Linked DNA regions of Homo sapiens. The main gene of each other region encodes a partner of the protein of the gene in region 2 in a complex. Each region holds a gene or a part of one and is shown on either strand. Other genes may lie near its edges. A codon is read from its position in the direction of its gene.

Region 1 (7,814 bases), on a different chromosome or scaffold from region 2:
GGACCTGGGCCCAGTCCTTCTCAGTGGGGGCCCCAGGGGTGACGAGGATGAGGGCGTCGTAGTGCGTTGGGTGAGAGGCGGCGGCCGCGGTGGTGGCAGTGCCCGTGTGGCCCAGAGGCACGGTCCAGAGCACCACATTCGGGCGCTCTGGGGCTGGGAAGGGAGTGGGTGCTGTGGGGACCGAAGCAGGCGCAGCGCCTGGGTCGCCAGGATCCAATCCAAGCAGCATGTCCACCACAAGGCCCACGTCAGCCTTGCCAGCCACGGCCAGGTCTAGCCGTGCGCTGCCCAGGCGCTCCAGGCCTGAGCGCACCCACGACAGCGCAGCCTCAAGGCCGCCGGTCTCAAAGGCCTCACGCACAGCCTCTAGCTCTGCTGCACCCAACACCTCGAAGCCATCCTGCGCCGGTGGCAGGAGCCTGTGGGGACAAGAAGGGACAGGGTCAAAGGTAGAAGAGGGGCTGGGTGACATGGACTGGGCTATGATGACAAGGGCAGAGCTTTCCTAATGATCCCAGAATGGGGCAGGGGTAGGAAAGGGAAGGGCCAGACTGATGGCACAGCAAATAGAAACCAGATAGGGAGAGGCAGTGATGATATGGGTGGGGCTTCAAGCAATAATGGAGTCTTGATTATTGGACGGGTGGACATAAGGTCAGGTTTCCCACCCCAGCCTAAAATGGGGATTGGGCTAAAACTTCCATGGAATACAGTATTTGGGGGCGGGGTTTTTCCAAGGGTCGGCTGTGCTGGGTGGGACAAAGCTCACAGAGGGTGGGGCCTAGAACAAAGAATCGCAACTGTATTGTGGCCTAAACACAAGTCCAGCACTATTTGAGACAAGGTCCCCAAGGGCACTCTTTTCAGGGGCTGGGCCTAAGGAGGGTCAGTGAGGGGAGAAATCTCATCTACCAGTTCTTACCAAGGGGGAGTGGCTAAGGTGACTCCCGGGCAGGTGAGGCTAAGGAAAAAAGATGACAGTGTACTGGGACAAGGGACTGTCCCTCTCTGAGCCTCGTTTTAAAGTCTTTAAAATGAGGAGGCTGGCAGGTGGTAGAGCAAATCCAGGAGGTAGCCAGCAAGTGGGCACAGAAACAAGAGGGAGCTGGAGAAAGGAGGTAGATGAGGATGCCCCAAAATAATAAAGCTCATTGCGGGTGTGGCTTTAGGTGCTTGAAAACAAAACTGATGGTGGGGAGGGCTCAAAGATTAGAGTTTTCAGGTAAAATCTTCCAGGGGGCTGGGCAGAGAGTCTCACGACTGTAATCCCAGCACTTTGGGAGGCCAAGGAGGGTGGATCACCTTGGTGGGGGCAGGGCCTGGAAAAAGGAGCCTCAGGGCCCCAGCAGATAAAGTGTTAAGCCTTTCCCTTTTAATTCTAGGGCTTTGGGAAGCCTGGGTGGGGGCATGGCTTGAGGCCAAGAGTTCAAGACCAGCCTGGGGAAACAGTGAGATGCTGTTTTGCAGCCTGTAGTATTAGCTACTCTGGAGGCTGAGGCAGGAGGATCATTTGAGCCCAGGAGGTGGAGGCCGTCAGTGAGCTAGGATCGCGGCACTGCACTCCAGCCTGGGCGACAGAGTGAGAACCTGTCTCAAAAAAAAAGGCCGGGTGTGGTGGTTCACGCCTGTAATCCTAGCACTTTGGGAGGCTGAGGCGGGAGTATTGCTTAAGGCCAGGAGTTCAAATTCAACCTAGCCAACATAGCGAGACCCTGTCTCTCAGGAAAAAAAAAAAAATAATAATAATAGAGCTAAGCCTTGCCCCAAACTCACTGGGGGAGGGATCTCATGGACCTCCATGGTCGCACCTAGGTGCCTAGGGTCTCGACTAACGGACCCAGCCAGAAAGCCGGCACTCACCTCCGCAGCGCTTCTGCCTGGCTCTGCAGCGCCGCCCGGAGGCGCTCTAGCTCCTCGCAGCCGTCGCTGCTGCCGCAGTTCGCCGGTAGCACAAACAGATCCGCAGCTCCTAACCCCGCGCTGTTCAGCAGAGCTGCTGTCTGATCACGGGCCTGGGCGGCAGTCTGTGAATCCCCAGGACGGAGGTTCCGCACAGCCAGTAGCGGGGTCCCTCGGGCCAGGGCGGCCAGCGCTGCCTCTCCCAGGGCTGGAGCCAACGGTTCCCCGTTCCCCTCGGGTCCGGGCAGCACCAGTACCAGCACGTTGGCTTCCGCCGCCCAGGGCCCCGGCGCTGCGGGTGGGCAGCTCAGCTCGCCCAGAAAAAGGCCTGGGCCCGCAGCTCTTAGGCTGGGAACCCCGGAGTCCGGCCGTCCCTCGGGGGCCTCGAGCGTCTCCACATCCTTGTCGCACAGCGCTGCGATCAGCGCGGACTTCCCCAAGCCCGGAGGCCCCAGGAACAAGGCGGTCACGTCACCCTGCGGCGGAGGCATGGCTGGAAAGCAACGGGTAGAGAAGACCTGGGTCAGGGAGCACCTAGCCTTTTCCTTTCCTAGCCGCCCCACTCGGAACCCAGGCCTCAGTCCTTCACCCTGTCCCCTTCGGTTCTTGAGTGTCACTCTCCAGGACCTAAAAAATCCAGAGCCCAGACCCTATTCCCCCAGAATCCCAGGCGTCCTGTCTGTCCGCCCTCCCTCTAGATGGAAACGTTTCCCTTTCTGCTTCAAAAACTCTGAAATCAGGCGCGGTGGCTCATGCCTGTAATCCCAGTGCTTTGGGAGGCCGAGGCCGGAGGATCGCTTGAGGCCAGGAATTCGAGACCAGCCTGGCCAACATGTGGGGGGACTCTCTGGTAGAGTCTCCGTCTCGATAAAAAATAAAATTTAGCCGGGCATGGTGGTGTGCGCCTGTAGCCCCAGCTACTCGGAAGGCTGCGGCGGGAGGATCGCTTGAGCCCAGGACTTGGAGGCTGCAGTGGGCCGTGATCACACCACCGCACTCCAGCCCAGGCGACAGAGCAAGACCCTCTCTGAAAAATAAATAAAAATAAAACCTCAGAAATCTGGCTTCCAGTCCCTCCTCCCTCGGACACATTGTTATTTTCATCTTTCCCCTTCCCCCTTCCAAATCACCAACCGAGCAAAAAGCCGACCCACGGGAGAGAGCGCAGTCGGTGGCAGTAGGTCAGCAGCTGAGAAGCCCGGCCCCTGGGCCGCGGCGGACGGAGGCCGAAGAGGCCAGGGAGCGGTGATTTAGAGATGCCGGGACCCGTCCCGGTAGCTTTAACCTGACGTCACTCCCTCTCCCAAGGGGGTGTGTCTTGGAAGGCCGACAGCAGAGACCCAGCCCTTCGCCGCGCCTGCGCAGAACGGCCGAAGTGTGCACGCCCCTCTTTGGCGGCCTCAGGGCCTAGAACAATGAATGAGTCAACGCGCCTGCGCGCCACGAGAGCCTACCCACGCATGCGCAAAAGGCTTAGCTAGCTAAGCCGCGGGAGGCTGAACGTCATCAAACGCGCCATAGGGCAGAGAAGGACCCCTCCCGTTATTTTGAGGACCGGGCTGGTGCGACTATACTACTGCCGGATGGCAAATCCGGGATCTCGGCTCCGAGAGGCTCATCTGGCAAAAGGGCGCGGAAACCACGGGGGCCCTGAGACTGAGTGGTCCCTATCCCACTTCTCTCTGGGGCGGCGCTGTAGCCAGCGGCTGACAGGCGCAGCGAAAGGCAGCCCTCTGCTGTAAGGAGGAAAACTGAGGCCTGGGAGCAGGAACCTGTAGGCAGCGCTTGAGGGTAGCGGGATAGCAGCTGCAAGCGCGCGTGGGAGGCGGGGGCTCTGGGCGGAACAAAAATCACAGGATGTCAGAGGATGTTTCCCGGGAAGAACTGGGATAAAGGGTGGGTATCACTACCTGCCCCAAGACACTTGAGATTGGGATGACGCTGGTGTCAAAGATCAAGGCTTCCACGCTGAGTTCAGGGAGTTAGTTTGATGCAGCAGGTCATAGGTCACACCAGTGAGAAGACTCTAGGGGAGTCCCAAACCCAGGAAATCCAGTCCTTTGGGAGGTTTGAAGCTTCTTTTAGCAAGAACTCCATCAATTAGAGTTCAAGGAGATAGTATGTCGTAGGGGTCAAAGGCAGGCAAGGAGAGCCTCTGGCGATGTCAAAGGTCATAGACTTAGGGTGCCCTCTAAGACTGGTAACAGATGAACAGCTTCACTTATGCACGCTCCTCTCCTGACTAGAAGGGTCCCAGCACCATGGAGGACCCGAACCCTGAAGAGAACATGAAGCAGCAGGATTCACCCAAGGAGAGAAGTCCCCAGAGCCCAGGAGGCAACATCTGTGAGTACACATGGCTGGCGGGCTAGAGGAGGGTGGGGTGCAGGAGCTGATGCTAAGATCTCTGTGGCACTTCGGTGTCCAAGGCGCCACAGAGTTTTGCCTGTTGAGAAGGGGCTGTAATGGTCCCTGAGCTGCTCTAGCAGGAAGTGCATCTCCTCACACCAGCTTATGTGGCCAGAGTACTCACCCTCCTCTGGCCACATAAGCAGGATTGCAATGCTTATGCATTCAGAGGGATAGGGTGGCTTCCAGGAGAGGCTTGGGTTGGAGATGTGGCTGGGAATGGTTCTATTGGGAGAGAAACCCCAAGATTCTGGTCCCAACTCTGCCCTAGACTTTCAGTGTAACTTGGGCCTTGGTTTCCTTGACTGTCAAAAGAGGGTGGTACTTCCCACCTCACAGGGTGGGTATGGGATTAACTGCAGCAAAGGGGAAAGCTAGGGGTTAATGATGGTAGCCAGTTTGACATGTAATAGCAACACCTCCTGCTCAGTGTTTTATTATGAGCTAGGTGTATTTATTCTCATATTATGAACCATTTTAACATTCATTATCTCATTGAGTCCTTCTAATAATAGGCCCTTTAAACTGGGAACTGAGGCAGAGAGAGGTATTTGTAACAAGAGCTGTAGTCTCAATGCCCTTGAGCCAGAGACTACCAGGAACACACCTGCAGTTGAACACGTTGGGTTTCTCACTGCAATGAACACAGACCATGGGGGGACTGTGGGGTGTCTCACTAAGAATGGTAAAAACGACACAGGATTTGGGCTTGTGGGTGGTGATTTTGGGGAAGGTTCAAGCAAAATTGTTTTGCTCTGGATTGGATGCTACCAGGAAGCAGGGGCAATTCTATGATTGGCTATCGTAATAAATCTTACCCAGAAGGAGGAAGGAAGGAGGCGAGGCTCAAGCTCTGACTGATAAAGCAGCAGCAGACATTCACATTAGCCAGGATAGGAGGATGTTTGGTCATTTTTCTGCTTGGACAGTATTCATATTTTGTCTGTGCTCAGACATTATGATGATGTAGTCTTGTCTTGATTCATTTTAGTCACAGCGTGGCCTTGTCTGTCCTTGATATTCTGTGAAAATTTATGTTCAACAGAACACCAAGGTCTAGCTGTGAGTACCAGGCCAGATCCTGGATGTCGGGCTGGATTTCTCTGTATCATTAGTCATAATTGCAAATGACTGTACAGCAATTCATTTATTCCTTCCAACGGTCCTATGGAGTAGATACTGTTATTAGCCCATTTTCCAGATAAGGAAACTGGTGTAATTGCCTAGGAAGTGGTGGAGGTGAGATTCAATCCCAAGCAGTCTGGCTCCAAAGGCTGTGCTGTAATCACCATACCCCTCTGTTGGGCAGGCTGACTCTCTGGGTTCCAACCCTGGCTCCACCATTTCCTTTCCTAGCCTCATGACTATGGGCAACTTGCCTAACCTCTTTGAATCTCAGTTTGCTCATCCATAAAATAGGTGCAAGAACAGTTCTCCTGTTTGGTTGTCCAGCATTAGCATAGAACCTAGCACATAACACATTCAATGTTAATTGTTGGTGTGATTCTGGGGTTCAGGAAGAGGTCTTGGAGACTCCTGCTGGCCTCCCCTGACCTCTCCCCCACATTCCTCAGGCCACCTGGGGGCCCCGAAGTGCACCCGCTGCCTCATCACCTTCGCAGATTCCAAGTTCCAGGAGCGTCACATGAAGCGGGAGCACCCAGCGGACTTCGTGGCCCAGAAGCTGCAGGGGGTCCTCTTCATCTGCTTCACCTGCGCCCGCTCCTTCCCCTCCTCCAAAGCCCTAATCACCCACCAGCGCAGCCACGGTCCAGCCGCCAAGCCCACCCTGCCGGTTGCAACCACTACTGCCCAGCCCACCTTCCCTTGTCCTGACTGTGGCAAGACCTTTGGGCAGGCTGTTTCTCTGAGGCGGCACCGCCAGATGCATGAGGTCCGTGCCCCTCCTGGCACCTTCGCCTGCACAGAGTGCGGTCAGGACTTTGCTCAGGAAGCAGGGCTGCATCAACACTACATTCGGCATGCCCGGGGGGAGCTCTGAGTGCAGCTTAAGCCTCTCCACGGTGACGGGTGGCTCTGTGGCTGGTAGGACTCACCCATGATATGGGGTGCAGGAACTCTGGGGGCCCTGAAGGATTTGCTTCCCTCCCCTGGGAAGGCAGAGGGCTCTTAATAAAGAGGACCCAGAAGATTCTTATTTAGAGCTTCAGTCTTTGGAGCACACAGGGCCTTCGTGAGACAGTGAAATCAGATAATAATGAGATCTTTTGTTAAAAAAAAAAAATGGGAAGGGAGTGCGGGAGAGAAATGGTTTGTGTCTCCCTTATTCCCAGTTAAATACCTAGCTGCAGATTGTGCCATCACCCTTCATTCTTCCCAGATGGATGCCATGGGCTATGGGAGCAAATTGCCCTGGACCTTTGCCTGAATGGGGGCAGGAAAGGTGAGGTGTTGCTGGCCTGTAATGCCACCAGGTGAGTTCCAGATGTGGAGCAACTTGGGCTTTTGGGGATGGGGCAGCAAAGTTGGGAGCTGGACCCCAATTGAGTGGGGGTAGCAATTGGAGTCCTTGTGTCTCTTTTCCACCCCCTGCCATCCTCACTTAGAGGGGCCATGGCACTAGATGGCACTAGTCCCCCGATAATTTATGTCTCGTTGAAATAATTTTGTATATCATTCTAGTCCTGAAATATTTTTTTCATATGTGTAGGTGAAATGGTATGAATAAGCTAACAGGAATAGTATCTAAAAACAGAAAACATCCATATTAAAATGTCTAAACAGGGAGCTCTGGCTTTTGAGTGGGAATTTCCAGAGAACATAAGGGTGTGGGCAGGTGGGGGAACTCAGGCCAGAGTTGGCCTCGCTTTGTGGGGAAACTGGTTTGGAATCAAACAGAGATACCTTCTGTTTCGGGTTTTATTTGGCCAACACTGGGAGATTTCCCATTAAGATCCTATTTTCAGCTCTCTTGAAAGGCCCAACCTAGGCTGACATTGTCAGCAGGGGCAGGACAGAAGTTACAACAGGCTGGAGGGAGCAGTGGGTGTCACCCTCAACTGGAGATGAGTCCCACCAGGCCAGTTTTACCCCCTTAGTTACCTGCCCTGCACCTGCAGACAATGGTCGATGCCTTGCATATAATACTTATAGACTCTGTTTATGTTGAGGGATGTTTTTAAAGCCCACAGGTGAGGTGGATGTGGTAGACTGATCACTGTCTCTGTTTTTAGCTAGGCACACAGTAGCTGAAAAGACTGCATTTCCCAGATTCCTTTGCAGCTAGATGTGGCCTTGTGACTGATTTCTGGCTAAATTCCTGGGTAGAACAGTCAAGCTTAAGAAAGGGACGGCTGGGCACAGTGGCTCACGCCTGTAATCCCAGCACTTTGTGAGGCTGAGGCCGGTGGATCACCTGAGGTCAGGAGTTTGAGACCAGCCTGGCCAACATGGTGAAACCCTGTCTCTACCAAAAATACAAAAATTAGCCGGGTGTGGTGGCATATGCCTGTAATCCCAGCTACTTGGGAGGCTGAGGCAGGAGA
Region 2 (7,527 bases):
AGAGCTACAGCTGTGGCAGACCAATGGCGTCCAGTGGGCAGGCCCTGGGGTGTCTCCTCAGGTTGAATACTGGCCTTAGGGAAGGAGCTTCCATTTCTCCCCTGCCTTTCTATCAGACACCAGGAAGTAGAGGTGGAGGACACTGGGAAAGAGGAAATCAGACCAAAAAATGGCCAGAGCTTTCCACCTTTAACAGAAATAAGGTCTGGAATTTGGCACAGGCCTCTTCTGGAGTCTTCAAGGATTTTCAACAGGAACCTATTTGGACAACATTGGGCTAGTTCCCAGGGCTTCTGAGAGCCTTCACTTTTAGAAGTATTACTTCTGGGAGTGGTAAATGAAACCTAGATTGGGTCACAAAGATAAGATGTGGCCAGAAACTCACACTCAGGGGAGAGGTGGGGGCTGGAATCTGGATCAGGGCCTACAACTACCCACTCAGTAACGGGAAAGGACTGACCAGGAGGTTAGACGGAGCCCATCCACTTTCCTTTTTCCACAGGGGACTAAAGCTGGGCTGTCAAACACACAGAAAACGGGAATTCTAATGCCTCTGCCTACATTCAGGCCACAAGTTACAGTCCCAAAGATTGCTTCCAGGCAGCACAATAGTCTGACAGTCAAAGCAAGTGCTACCAAGGGAGGTATAAGTCTGTAAAGAGACTTCAGAGCCCTTTACTGTGCCGCAGTCATTTTGTCAGACTTGAGGATCAGGCAGCTATAGACTCTTACAATGTCAAAGAGTTGACCAAGTTTGGGAGCAAGCAAACTGGATGATTAACTGAGTGAGCCTCAGCAGGGCCCACAGGCTCCCAGTGGAGGAGCATGCCAGGACTGCCTTCAGGGAAGAAAACCTCATTTCAGGCCTCAGTTCTACCTATAGCTTAAGACTAAATAAGTTCTCAACCGTTTTAAAAGATTCTTGGAGATCTTAGGCTGAGTTTCATCATTTTTTTAAAAGTCCAGGCCTTGTTCTATTTTCTGAATCCAAAATGCACTCTTATGTATTGCAGCCATTATTTTCCTGGAGCCCCTGATGTCAGGGAGCATAAAATCCAGATTTCTAGTCAGGACCCCTAAGAGTTTTCAGACTTCCAAAGTTTTGGAGTTCCGTAAGCAGCCAACCAGATGTCTAATACCAGAGGGCCCATCTAGTAAACACCTCTCACCTGGACTGTGGGACTGTCTTATCCACAAACAGGAAGATCGCCTTTTCAGAAGGAAGCTGGATCCTTTTCCTGATGATCCACATGAACTGAGCCACAGTGATATCAGATGGAACCAAGTACTTCCGTTTGTCAATGTCAACAATCTGAGAGCCTGAGACCTTTTCCACAATCACCTGGGAAAGTAAAGAGAGGTCAGGACTGTGTTTCCTAAAGCGAGGCTCTGGCCTCACATGGCTGAGGAGCTGATGAACAGAGTGTGGGCAAGGAGGTGGGTGGGGAACTGCATAGCAGGAGAAAATATGTCTTTGGCTTAATAAACCACACGCTCTGGAGGTTAAGAATTGATATAAATGTGTTACAGGGAAACAGTAAGTGCTTTTCTGTGGTCAATTATGTAAGAGAAATGCAGCCCTTACCACTAAGCTTTTCCACATTTTATCTGGGCAGACCTAAGAATATCTGGGGAGGGTTTCATCCATGGCCCGTTACTCCAGGACCCCAGAATGGATCCACCTTCACACTACAGGAAACACTACTGTGTTCCCAAGGAACACAGGAGACAAGAATGGATGGACTAATTGGAATGCCTGGAATTTTAGCCAGCCAAGAACCAAGTTCTTCATTTGGCCTGTTGCTCCTCTCTGAACAAGTTTCAAATCCGTCCCTCCTACTCCTTTCCCCAGACAAATTATTCACAAGCAAAGAGCTACAATAACAGGCCTTAATGTCCATTAAAAATTAATAACGATTACAAAACTATCTCCCCAACCATGGAAGAAATATAACATTATATTTATTATTGACTAAGAAGAAAATATGGCAGAAGGGGTTTTCAGCGGCTTTTCACATTATTTTGGTCAGGCAAGGATGACAGGGTCAAGGTGAGATAACGGAGCTAGAAGTTAGGTAAAGATGGAGACAAAGTAAAAGATGAACGTCCTGAGACTCAAGTACCACTTCCAAGACCAAAATGACAGTCTCCCTCCACCACCATTCCCAAAAGTGGCAGTGACCTGTTGCCCTGTCCTAGAACATCGTTCCTTACATAATTGGCCAGGGAGCCCCGAGGCTGCAGACGGCTCGCTGGCCTAGATCGGGAGATTCAGCACTGAGGCACCCTGAACAGCACCAGCCCGAGCCCCTCACGCCCCGGCCCTGGGCGGCCTCATCCCGGTCTGGCCCGTCAGCTACTGTAACTGGGACTGGAACCTCAACTTGTCAACTGTTGAATGGCCTGGGGCCTATCACGGGTCCCAGACGACAGAGGTGACAGCGAGGTGAGGGGGCGGAGAGTCCACTCACCGGAACCCTGTCGGGATATTTCGCTCGAATCTTCGCGGACTCCACGCATCTGTGTTCTGTGGGAGAAACAAACGGGGCTGACGGCCGCGCCTGCCCACCGGTCGGTTCCCGGCCCCCGGCCCTCCTCCTCCTGCGCCCTGCGTACAACCCAGGCCCTGGTTCCGGCGTCCCCGGGGCCGCGGTCCTGTCCCCTACTAGCTCCCAGCAAGGCCCGCGGAGGGTGACATGGGGTCAGGGGGCCGCTGCCCGAGGCACCAGGGCATGGGCGACTCCAGCCCGCAGCAGGGCATCCGCCCCGCTCCACTCGGCCCAGGGCCGCCCGAGTGGGGGAGGGGGCCCACCCGCCGCCCCAGCCCCCAGCAGCCGGGCCGACGACCAAGTGCTTACCCAGCGAGTGGTCCTCCTTGAACATCCACTTCATGGCGGCGGCGGGAAGGGGACGGAACCGGCTCGCGGAGCCGCGGAGCTCAGCGCACCGAGCACAACAACAACGACGGCGGCAGCGGCAGCGGCAGCGACGGCGGCGACTACACGGCAGGCGGGACTTCCGGCTGTCGGAGCCTAGCAACCGGCCGGGGGCGGGGCTTCCGGCGCCATTTGTCAGGGCGCCACGCCAAGGGGCGGGGCCGCACGTAAAGGGGCGGGGCCGCGGAGGACCCCTTTGGGGGCTCCTGGGCTGCGGTGGCGAAGAAGTTGGTTATGGGGACGTCTGTGAGCAGTATCTGCGACATTGCTCGCAGGAATGTTCGGGGAACTGGTGACAGGAGTGGGGTCTCGGGAGCGTTGGTGGCGGAAAACGTCTGGCTGATAGTGTAGGGCTCTTACTGAGGGCTGTTTGGGGGTGTGGCTGATAGCTGAGGGCTCTTAGAGCGGTTCATAGGGGAAGTCTGGGGAATTGGTGACAAGAACGGTCTTTAGGGGTAAGAATGACATAAGGAGGGCTTTCTAGAGCTTGGCGATAACAAGGGAGCTGTTTAGGGCGTTGACAGTTTGGGGAGTATTGCTCGGAGTGGTGACAGGTTGGGGGCTCATTATGGGAGGGGAGGGTGTTTGAGGACACTGTTGGAAGCGGCACTGAGGACAACCCGGAGGTCCGTATTAGGGACAGCCGTAGTAGGTTGTCTTGGACCTAGAAATTGAATTTAAACAAATCCCGTTTTCTTCCTTTATTCGTGAATAAATATTTGAATAAACATTTACGAAAAGGTATCACAAATGCACATTTGAGGCGGGGTACGGTGGCTCACGCCTGTAATCCCAACACTTTGGGAGGCCGACGCGGGTGGATCACCTGAGGTCAGGAGTTGAAGACCAGCCTGGCCAACATGGTGAAACCCCGTCTCTACTAAAAATACAAAAATTAGCCAGGCATGGTAGTGGGCGCCTGTAGTCCCAGCTCCTCGGGAGGCTGAGGCAGGAGAATCGTTTGAACCAGGGAGGTGGAGGTGGCAGTGAGCCGAGATCACACCACTGCACTCCAGCCTGGGCAACAGAGCAAGACTCCGCCTCAAAAAAAAATGCACATTTGAGGAGTGTAACATCACTGATCACAGACCCCTTAATTTTAACTGGCAGAGGAGTTAGAGGTGACTGTCAGACTCGGAGAATTCCCCTGAGAGCTGGTCATGAGATGGGTTTCCTTATTTGGCTGTGGGAGTGGTTTAGCAATCACAGCCTGAGCTGTGTGTGTGTCACCTGCCCGGACATATGCTTTGAGGTTCTCCAATCAGTGATGTAATGCCTTTTTTCCAAGCAGACTCATCAAGGCAGTCTGGTCTGGGTCACCATCTGTTTATAAGCTGCTGAACATGTAGCAGGAATATTCACTTAATTGGGCACATGAACCCTGCCACGTGCTTGTGATTCTGATGCACCTGTAAAGCCTGTATGTTTGAATGTGGTAGTTCATCATTTCCTACACTGGAAATTCCTGATCGATGCTGTGGAATCTAGCTTCATTCTATAAGTATTTTTGTTATTTTAAGACTGTGTGTCTGAGTAACTAGAATAGGTTTTTTTGTTTCTTTGTTTTTGTTTTTGTTTTTTGGAGACAGGGTCTTTCTCTGTCACCCAGGCTGGAGTTCAGTGGCACAATCTTGGCTTACTGCAGTCTGCCTCCTGGGTTCAAGCGATTCTGCTGCCTCAGCCTCCTGAGTAGCTGGGACTACAGGGACACACCACCACACCCAGCTAATTTTTGTATTTTTGGTAGAGATGGGGTTTTGTCATGTTCGCCAGGCTGGTCTTGAACTTCTCACCTCAAGTAAGTGATTTGCCCGCCTCGGCCTCCCAAAGTGCTAGGATTACAGGTGTGAGCCACTGCATCTGTTTGTTTGTTTTTAATGAAGTGGAAAAAATCCTTTGAATTTCCTACTTAGAAATTATTGTTACATACAAGAGCTCTGTGCTAGGTGCTGGGGAAAAACAGTGAAGAAGACAGATGACATCCCTATTCTCATGGGTGGCAGCATGAGATATTCTTGTCCCCCTGACATATTCTAGTGGGATAAGACAAAAAATAAGTATGTTAGGTAATGATAGGTGCTATTTCGAAAAATAAAGCACAGTAGGTGACTAGAGAGTGTGGTGGGATGGAATGCTAATTAGATAAAGTGCCTGGCATATTCTAGGGAACCCCTGTGGCTGGAGCTGAATAAATGAGAGAGGAGAGTGTGTTATGAGACAAATTCAAAGATATCTAGAACAAAACTGTGTTGAGCTTTGAATTCCATGCAAAGAGCTTTGGATTTTATTTAGAATGAGATGAGAAGTCAGTGTAGGGGTTTAAGCAGAGACGTAACACAATCTGCCTTTCCTTTTCAAAAGGCTAGCTTAGTAGACTGTAGGCGCTGAGGGTGGAAGCAGGGAAATAGTTGAGACACTATTGTGATAATCCTGGTGAAAGATGATGTTGGCTTTGGCCAAGGTGGGGTCTACAGAGGTGATGGGAAGCAGTTGTATTCTGGATATATTTCGAAGGTAAAACTGGTAACAGTTGCTGATAGATTGGATGTAAGACATGAGGGACAGATCAAAATCAAGGTTTTTGGAAGGATGGAATTGCCATTTACTGAAATAGGGTGGAGCCAGCTTGGGGAGTGAAAAACAAGAGTTTGGTTTTTGAGATATTAAATATGAGATGTCCAAGGGACATACACAAGTGAAGATGTAGAGTTGGTGAATGGTGCTATGAGTCTCAAATTTAGAGAGAAATATTTCAAGCTATTAAACTGGGTAAGATTAGGTAGACAGTGAGTTTAAAAATGAAAATACTTGGCCGGGTGCAGTGGCATATGCCTGTAATCCCAGCACTTTGGGAGGCCGAGGCAGGTGGATCACCTGAAGTCAGGAGTTCATGACCAGCCTGACTAACGTGTTGAAACCCCGTCTCTGCTAAATACAAAACAATTAGCCAGGTATGGTGGCACATGCCTGTAATCGCAGCTACTTGGGAGGCTGAGACAGGAGAATTGCTTTTACTTAGGAGGCAGAGGTTGCAGTGAGCTGAGATCGCGCCACTCCACTCCAGCCTGGGCAACAAGAGCGAAACTCCGTCTCAAAAAAAGAAAATACCTATTTTACAAATAGAATTAAACACTGAAGAATGAAGATGGTTGTTCACCATCTCCTAGTCAGTGAACCAGTGGAGGAGTTAGAAATTGGACTCAACACCCCTGCTTCCCTTTACAGAGCTGGTCATTGCATCCTAGTCCAAAATATATGTATATTGTCTTGCATGTGAAAGAGCTGAGAACACTTCTTAGGGGAAAATTTCACTGCACACCAATTCATAGACATGTCTTTTGATGGTCTCAATGATGTGCAATGCATTTTGGTCTTCCATCCTTACCTACTTTCTTGGTGTGTTTTCCCAGTTCACCATTCTAATTGACTTATTTCATCCACCTTGATGATATGTACCACCTTCTTTACATATTGGGTCATTGTATTTAGCTATGGAATGTTCTAAGGACACTGGATGCCTTCCTTGAGGGAGTGGTTAGTTAAGGACGTAAGTCAGGAGGAGAAATAGGATAATGAATATATGCAACGTAATTACACATTAACAAATCTATAAAACACAGAGAATGAATTTCAAATGTTGGAGAGGTATGTGAACATGGATACTGAGGCATTGCTAGGGCAATAGGGGCCAGCACAAAGCCAAGTGAGAATTAGCAAGGAAGACTTCACAGAGAATGTGAATCTTCTGTTGTAGAGAGAAGGGTACATTTTCATTGGGTAAACTTTTCCTTTCCAGATAAAAACAAAGGCTGGGGTTGGAAGAGGGAACAGAAAAGCAGTATAGATAAGTAAATAAAATGTTGGAAAGCTTTGAAGCAAACATTCAGAAGTTCTAACCTAATTCAGGAGACCCTGAATAAGAGCTCCTATAAAGGAGAGAAGAACATGATTAAAATGTGCAATTTGGGGCTGGGTGCAGTGGCTCATGCCTGTAATCCCAGCACTCTGGGAGGCCGAGGCAGGTGGATCACCTCAGGCCAGGAGTTCTAGACCAGACTGGCCAACATGGTGAAACCCCGTCTTTACTGAAAATACAAAAATTAGCCAGGCATGGTGGCACGCACCTGTGGTCCCAGCTACTCAGGAGGCTGCAGGCATGAGAATCGCCTGAGCCCAGGAGGTGGAGGTTGCAGTGAGCCAAGATAGTGCCACTGCACTCCAGCCTGAGCGACAGGGTGAGACTCCATCTCAAGAAAAAAAAAATGTGGCCAGGTGCGGTGGCTCACGCCTGTAATCCCAGCACTTTAGGAGGCCAAGGCAGGCGGATCATGAGGTCAGGAGTTCGAGACCAGCCTGACCAATAAGGTGAAACCCCGTCTCTACTAAAAATACAAAAAAAAAAAAAAAAATTCACCAGGCGTGGTGGTGAGCGCCTGTAATCCCAGCTACTCAGGAGGCTGAGGCAGGAGAATCGCTTGAACCCGGGAGGCGGAGGTTGCAGTGAGCCGAGATCGCCCCACTGCACTCCAGCCTGGGCTACAGAACAAGACTCCATCTCAAAAAAAAAAAAAAAAAAAAAGTGCAGTTTTAA

What was found.
Region 1: the proteins of GABARAPL2 (region 2) and IRGQ are in contact, whole or in part, in a crystal structure (PDB 8Q6Q), measured with the Homo sapiens proteins. Residues at the interface, in NP_009216.1 of Homo sapiens: Ser10 (codon at 2,865), Glu12 (codon at 2,859), His13 (codon at 2,525), Cys15 (codon at 2,519), Val16 (codon at 2,516), Glu17 (codon at 2,513), Ala19 (codon at 2,507), Lys20 (codon at 2,504), Ile21 (codon at 2,501), Ala23 (codon at 2,495), Lys24 (codon at 2,492), Tyr25 (codon at 2,489), Arg28 (codon at 2,480), Pro30 (codon at 2,474), Lys46 (codon at 1,297), Lys48 (codon at 1,291), Tyr49 (codon at 1,288), Leu50 (codon at 1,285), Val51 (codon at 1,282), Pro52 (codon at 1,279), Phe60 (codon at 1,255), Ile63 (codon at 1,246), Arg67 (codon at 1,234), Phe104; in NP_001007562.1 of Homo sapiens: Asp7 (codon at 2,372), Thr9 (codon at 2,366), Leu11 (codon at 2,360), Pro47 (codon at 2,252), Leu49 (codon at 2,246), Phe57 (codon at 2,222), Pro70 (codon at 2,183), Trp71 (codon at 2,180), Glu74 (codon at 2,171), Pro181 (codon at 409), Ala182 (codon at 406), Gln183 (codon at 403), Asp184 (codon at 400), Gly185 (codon at 397), Phe186 (codon at 394), Glu187 (codon at 391), Val188 (codon at 388), Leu189 (codon at 385).

Annotation. Positions count from the first base shown.
Region 1 is NC_000019.10:43,592,949-43,600,762, forward strand, and holds the start of IRGQ (immunity-related GTPase family Q protein), read right to left. Parts: upstream 3,187-7,814; 5' UTR 3,034-3,186; intron 2,393-3,033; 5' UTR 2,391-2,392; coding exon 1,861-2,390; intron 420-1,860; coding exon 1-419. Other genes in the region: ZNF576 (zinc finger protein 576), read left to right, coding at 4,161-4,245, 5,883-6,310. UniProt on the Homo sapiens protein: Autophagy receptor that specifically promotes clearance of misfolded MHC class I molecules by targeting them to the lysosome for degradation.
Region 2 is NC_000016.10:75,561,852-75,569,378, reverse strand, and holds the start of GABARAPL2 (gamma-aminobutyric acid receptor-associated protein-like 2), read right to left. Parts: upstream 3,001-7,527; 5' UTR 2,893-3,000; coding exon 2,859-2,892; intron 2,528-2,858; coding exon 2,472-2,527; intron 1,343-2,471; coding exon 1,170-1,342; intron 1-1,169. UniProt on the Homo sapiens protein: Ubiquitin-like modifier involved in intra-Golgi traffic. Modulates intra-Golgi transport through coupling between NSF activity and SNAREs activation. It first stimulates the ATPase activity of NSF which in turn stimulates the association with GOSR1.